Linked DNA regions of Homo sapiens. The protein of the gene in region 1 purifies or fractionates together with the protein of each later gene. This does not show direct contact. Each region holds a gene or a part of one and is shown in the gene's direction. Other genes may lie near its edges.

Region 1 (3,500 bases):
GAAAATAAACTTTCATATCAGAAAATAGGTGTTTTAACAGTCGTGCCCTGCTGTGCCAATTATGATCGCTTTGTATTCACTGACGCAGAATGGCATGGATGGTTAAGAGATGGACTCAGGAAGGTTTGGTTTAGCTCTCATCTGTTGCCACTTTCTAACTGTGCGGCCTTCGGCAAGTCCCTTAACCTTTCCAGGGCTTAGTTTACTGATCTGTAAAATGGTGATGTATGTTCACCTCATCGTGTTAATGCAAATATTAAATGAGATAATGTATGCTTCATGCCCAGGACAGCACCAGTCACACAAGGACCACACAATACATGGAGATTGGTAGGGCTGTCTTTGTTAGTACATGAAGGGTATTTACTTACCCTTAAATACAAGCAAGTAAGTAAGTCACAGCCCCCACTGTACAATGGAATCAATTCTACTTGCCCTACAGGGTTACCATAAGGCAACGAACGTGAAAGCACTCTGAAGTGCGCAAGATATGAATTGTACTTAAGACATTAATGTTATGCCATTTTCCAAACTATTTTGGTTTTATACATTTATTATACCATTTCCTTTTTTCCTTCATAATATTGATAATTAATAATTATTTTTCTGACTACAAAAATCCTGCCCACCTTCTATGATGGATTCAAGCTTTTTTTTGAGACGGAGTCTTGCTCTGTTGCCCAGGCTGGAGAGCAGTGGTGCAATCTGCAGGCTCCACCTCCTGGGTTCACACCATTCTCCTGCCTCAGCCTCCCAAGTTGCTGGGACTACAGGCACCCGCCACCACACCCGGCTAATTTTTTGTATTTTTAGTAGAGATGGGGTTTCACTGGGTTAGCCAGGATGGTCTCAATCTCCTGATCTCGTGATCCACCTGCCTCGGCCTCCCAAAGTGCTGGGATTACAGGCGGGAGCCACCGTGCCCGGCCTCATTTAAGATTTTCTAGTAGCCACATCTAAAAAGAAAAAGGGACAGATGAAGTTAATTTGAGTAATATAGTTTACCCAACAGATCCAAAATATTATCATTTCAACACTAATCAATATAAAAGTTATGAATTTTATATTTGAGGAAGACTATTTTCCTTGTAGTGAGTCTTTAAAATCCAGTATGTGTTTTATTCTTCCAGCACATTTTAATTTGGGCCAGCCACGTTTCCAGGGCCAATAGCCACATGCAACCTGTGGCTACTATACTGGGCAGTCCAACTCCAGGCAGTCTTCCCTCGGCATAATCAGAGCCTGAAAATGATGAGGAGGAGGAGGAGGAGGATGAAGCACTTCTCATGTACTAAGTGCTGGTCTAAGAGTTATGTATTAATCATATTTAATACTCACAAGTGAATCCATAAAGTGGATTATCTTGTTCCCAGTATAAAGAAGAGAAAGCTAAGGCTCAGAGAGGTGAAGGGACTTGCACAGTTACCCAGCTTGAAGGCATCATTTGCACTTCAGTGGGCACCAGTGGATGGCTGGGGTGGAAAGCTGGGGAATGATCAAAGTCACCTCATTCCAGCCCTGACAGGCTTCCCTCTGTGGATCCTGTTGCTCCTCTGTGCCAGGCTGGTGATACAGCTTAGATTCCAGTGGGGAATTCAGAAAAGAACAGGTAAACAAACAAAATAATTACAAACTGTGGTCAACTTTGAGGGACAGCTGGAGCTTGAGGGAGAATATGTGGGAGATATGGAGGTTGGCAGTACCAAGTCAGCCTTCTCTGACTTGGTGGTCAGAGAAGGCTCCGAGACTGAGACCCAAGGATTGAGGAAGAGCCAGGGTTGGAGAAAGAGCATGTGCCAAGGTCCTGGTATAGCAAGGAGCCCAGCCCACGAGGACCTTCAGGAAGGTTGAGTGGCTAGTGTAGGATGAGCAAGAGGAGAAGGGAGAAGGGGGCACCAGACAGACACCGGCCAATTCACACAGGGCCCTGAAGATCCCAGGAGGAAGTTCACATTTTGTTCTCTGGGTCCTAGGAAGCCCATGAGTGGGGCTGGAGGTATGGGGTGGTGTGATCTGATGCTTTTTTTTTAGATGGAGTCTTGCTCTGTCGCCCAGGCTGGAGTGCAGTGGCACGATCTTGGCTCACTGCAACCTCCGCCTCCCCAATTCAAGTAATTCTCCTGCCTCAGCTGGGATTACAGGCACATGCCACCATGCCCAACTAATTTTTGTATTTTTTTTTTTTTAGTAGAGATGGGGTTTCACCATGTTGGCCAGGCTTGTCTCAAACTCCTGACCTCGTAATCCATCCACCTCGGCCTCCCAAAGTGCTGGGATTACAGGCATGAGCCACAGCTTCCAGCCAATCTGACATATTTTTTAAAAAGTTCCTTCCAGCTGCTGTGTGGTGAATGGACTGCAGTGTGGGTTGGAGAGTGGGTTCTGGAAAACCAGCGAGGAGATTATTATGCTAACAGGAGAGATGGCAAGGTGTGATACAAGAAAGTGATCAGAAAGGGGCTTAGCCATTGCCCCTTTGTCAGTCCCAAGTGGGAACCAGGCTACTTGGGAGAAAAACACAGGCACCGACTGTCTGTGCGGATGCCCCTCTCTGCAGCCTCCCGGTTGTAGCTGAAGGATGCTGCCGTCAGTGTTTCATGCACCATTCTCCCCGAATCACTGTCTACTCCTTCACCCGGCTTCCTGTCTCCAATGCCCAGCACAGGTCCTGGGATGCAGTAAGCATCCAATCAATGTTTATGACATCAAAGGAATAACTTTCCAGTAGTATGCAGCTGTTAATCTAGAAAGGACCTCTTCCCAAGATAGAATTGTGTCCTTCTGCCAATAGATACATTTAGGCGCATGTTTTTTGTTCATTATTGTCTTAATATGACCCTGAAAATAATACACGCTCATCATAAAATATATTCAAGCCCTGTAGAAACCCATTAATTAGAAAGTGGAAGTCCCTTATAATTCTACTTCCCAAGGGAAACCACTGCATCAAAAACCAGGTGCAGGCCAGGCACAGTGGCTCACGCCTGTAATCCCAGCACTTTGGGAGGCCAAGGTGGACAGATCACCTGAGGTCAGGAGTTTGAGACCAGCCTGGCCAATATAGTGAAACCTCGCCTCTACTAAAAATACAAAAATAAGCCAGGCATGGTGGCACACACCTGTAATCCCAGCTACTCGGGAGGCTGAGGCAAGAGAATTGCTTGAACCTGGAAAGTGGAGGTTGCAGTGAGCCAAGATCACACTACTGCACTCCAGCCTAGGTGGCAGAGTGAGACCCCATCTCAAAACAAAACAAAAACCAGATGCAATTTCTTTCATATTCTCTCCTACCTCTGTCCCTCCACCAGTATTAGCATTATTCTGTACACAGCACACATGCATTTTCTTCTTAGATTTCTTTCCATGGCAATACAATAAATCTGCTTCAGTCTTTTTTAACCTGCTGAATATTTTCCTGGCCCCATGGGGAAATCTTCCAGCGACACACACTCAGCGTATACAAAAATGCTCCCTTTTTCAGTTGCTTTTCTGTCTGGGTG
Region 2 (3,500 bases), on another chromosome or scaffold:
CTGATTTATTTAACTTCTTTGATAATAACTTCAAACCTAGCAATCATCTTTCTCCTGTGAAGGCCCACTTTATATGAGGCATGAATATTTTAAATTTTTCCTCATAGGATTTGAGGCTTTGTTGACCTGTGTGTGTCACTAAGGCTTTGTATTGTTTTGTTGTTTGATTTTTGCTAGCATGCTTACCACACTGCTTTCTTCACTATATTTTAAGAAATGTAAACAGTCTCATTGTCTCTCGGCCACGTCTTGTGAGTGGAGAGTAGGTGTGGTGGTGGGATTGAAAGGAGAGTCAGGGTGGGAGGACGTTCATCACTGCATTGATTTACTTCACTATCTGTATTACAAACTTCCAAAAAAGATAGAGATTGATAAAATGCTGAGATATAATAAAAAGAAAAATTTATAAGAGGAGACTGAGAGGACAAAATGCGGGTGATGAAGGGTTTCCCCAGAACTGCAGAATGTGCACTCCACCGGGGTCCAGCACTGTTGTCAGTTGCATTCACTTCTGTATCCTCAGTGTCTTGAAGAGTTCCTGGCACCAAGTAGGTGCTTAACAGATGTTTGATGAACAATAAATATATACTTGCAGGTAGTTTTAAAGCACAAAATCGGGGTTCTCTTTGATGGAATCATTAAATTCTGAAAGAACAAAGAAGGCAAGATGGAGAGTAGTGATTGAGTCTCTCCTATAAGCTATGTCTCTTGGAGAGGGGATAGATAGTAATATTGCTGATTTTTAACTCAAGCTGGGAGCTGCATTGTGGTGTTTTCAAATTCAAGGGTTATAATTTGCTTGGGCGTATATCACGACATTCCAGGATTTGAAGGAAAAATAATTTGCTCCTAAAATTGTCCAGCCAGCACTTCTTCCCAGCTCTTGTGGGTGGTTAGTAAAGGTATTGTAGAGGATAGGCAGTCAGGACAAAAGGCCCTCATGAGGAGGATTTCCTGTCCTGGACACAGAATTCCAAAACCAAAATCATTCAAGAGATGGAGCAGAAGAGGATGCGGGGAAAAGAGAATCTATCTCGAGATAATGTGGGGTGTAGAATGTAATTAAAATGTCTATATGTGTGGCTATGGATGTTTAATATACAGATTCTTGTGTTAGGGATTTTAGAGAATCAGATGGCCTCATTTACCACCAAATTTAAATTTTTTTTTCTAGGCTGTTGTTCATGAATCTGAAGGATTGTTGGGGTACATTTACTGTGATTTTTTTCAGCGAGCAGACAAACCACATCAGGTGATCCTTTCTTTATAAACTGGTCTCTCTAGAACCGATCGGCATTTCATTTGTATTGATGTGAACTTTGTATCATTTTTTAAATTCCATGACATTTAAAAGTTACTAATGATGGTTACCAAATATATACATTTGAAATTAAGATAGAATTTTAAAATTAAAAAGTTTATGGAAATAATTACATCAGTCTATATTTGTCACTTTTATCTGGGTCATGGTATTAATTATAGTAACAATGACAACTGACATTTTATGAATCCTTATTTGTGCCAAACAGTGCACTGAGCCCGTTATACACATCAGCCTTTTAATGTTCGCCTCACCCTTTTGACTAGTTACTCACATTATGAGGAAACTGAAGCCATAGAGGTTAAGCTACTTGGCCAGAAGTGCTAGGACTTGAAGGCATACATCCTGAGCAGATCCCCAACTTTTAACTCTTTTCCATACTCGACAATGAACCTATTCTAAAACTGCGGAAGATACTCCATGTGGAAACCTTACCAACCACCAAGTAGCTCCTTATGTGGAAGACTTGAGGCAGCTCATCTCCTTTTCTTTAGCATTGGCCGACTTTGACAGCCAGTCAGCTTTAGCAGTTTCATGTAGCTTGATGGGAAATGTCAAGAGTTTAGGTTATAAGTTATAACAGAAATAATGTACCTTATGTTTGAATAGTGATTCACAATTTCCAAAGCACAGATTTTAACAGATGTGAGCTTATGAATTCTGGACAGCCACTGTGGGATTTGACAAGGAAGCATTTTAGAGATGAGGCTTGCAGAAGCAAATTATTTTCCGAGATGATTTGTCTAGTAGGTGTGAAAGGTAGGAACAGGGTGCAGGTCACCAGACTCTGAGGCCAGTGTTCTTCCTCTTTGCTTAAATGGGTGGGTGGTGGAGACTCAACTTTAGTGATTAGGAGCCCTGGCTCCTAATAGTCAGCCTGGGTTCAGATCCAAGGTGTGGCAGTTCTAGCTAGGTGTCCTTGGACATGTTATTTAATAATCCTAAGACTAGTTTTAGTTTTATCATCTGAAAAGTGAGATACCTGCTACATAGGGTTGTTGTGGAGAATAAGTGATACAGTGTATGTGAGTCTCAGTGTAGTGCCTGTTTCAGAGTAAGTTATTCTGGCTCCGGATCCCTTGCTTTACACTAGTTTAGATCCCATCTCGTTCAAGTGATAAAAGTCAAGAGAGGCTGGGCGCGGTGGCTCATGCCTGTAATCCCAGAACTTTAGGAGGCTGAGGCTGGCAGATCACTTCAGTCCAGGAGTTCAAGACCAGCCCTGGCAACATAGTAAGACTCCATCTGTACAAAAAAAAATCTAAAAATTTAGCTGGGTGTGGTGGAGCACACCTGTAGTCCCAGCCAATCAGTAGGCCAAAGCAGGAGGATGGCTTGAGCCCAGGAGGTCCAGGCTGCAGTGAACTGCGATCACAACACTGCACTCCAGCCTGGGCAACAGAGCAAGACCCTATCTTAAAAAAAGAAAAAAAAATAGCCAAGAGACATGGAAAGTACCTACTAGTTCATTATCTGACACATAGTAGGGACTCAGAATAAATGTTAGTGTCCCTTCGTAAGTTCTTTGCTGACTTTGTTTCCAGCTTCTGGCACAGCATCATTTCAATGCATGTTTTGGGACCAAAGTAATGAGTTAATCCATAGAAACTGAATGTGTTCTTGATGTTTTAAAAAATTAAAATTTTAGCAGAATAAAAAATGTCAAGAAAAGGTGTATATATGTAAATAGATAGAATAAGAATATAATTAAGTTAAAGTTTGCACTCACACATTTTTGGTGAAATTTTATATTCATTAAGACTGTTTTACTCTTCACATTACCAAATACTTTCTTTTCCTTTTATGTTTTCTGATTCTTAAAGGATTGCCATTTCACTATCCGTGGAGGCAGACTAAAGGAAGATGGAGACTATCAACTCCCAGTTGTAGTTCTTATGCTGAATCTTCCCCGTTCCTCAAGGAGTTCTCCAACTTTGCTAACTCCTAGCATGATGGAAAATCTTTTCCATGAAATGGGACATGCCATGCATTCAATGCTAGGACGTACTCGTTACCAACACGTCACTGGTGAGCCATGAGGAGGGCTTTTATTTACTACAGTCCTTTACAAACATACATTTTCTTTGAATTGGGAAAGGGGCTTTTTATTTGGAAAATGTGATCATTTTACCGTGTCCTGTGGTCTTTATCTCAGATTGCCTCATCCTGCCCTCCCCAT

The links.
Region 2: the proteins of STPG1 (region 1) and MIPEP purify together in Homo sapiens (affinity purification with mass spectrometry; one large-scale study listed by BioGRID and IntAct). This does not show direct contact.

What each region holds. Positions count from the first base shown.
Region 1 is NC_000001.11:24,375,783-24,379,282, reverse strand, and holds part of STPG1 (O(6)-methylguanine-induced apoptosis 2), read left to right. Parts: intron 1-3,500. UniProt on the Homo sapiens protein: May positively contribute to the induction of apoptosis triggered by O(6)-methylguanine.
Region 2 is NC_000013.11:23,837,401-23,840,900, reverse strand, and holds part of MIPEP (mitochondrial intermediate peptidase), read left to right. Parts: intron 1-1,174; coding exon 1,175-1,252; intron 1,253-3,144; coding exon 3,145-3,349; intron 3,350-3,500. UniProt on the Homo sapiens protein: Cleaves proteins, imported into the mitochondrion, to their mature size.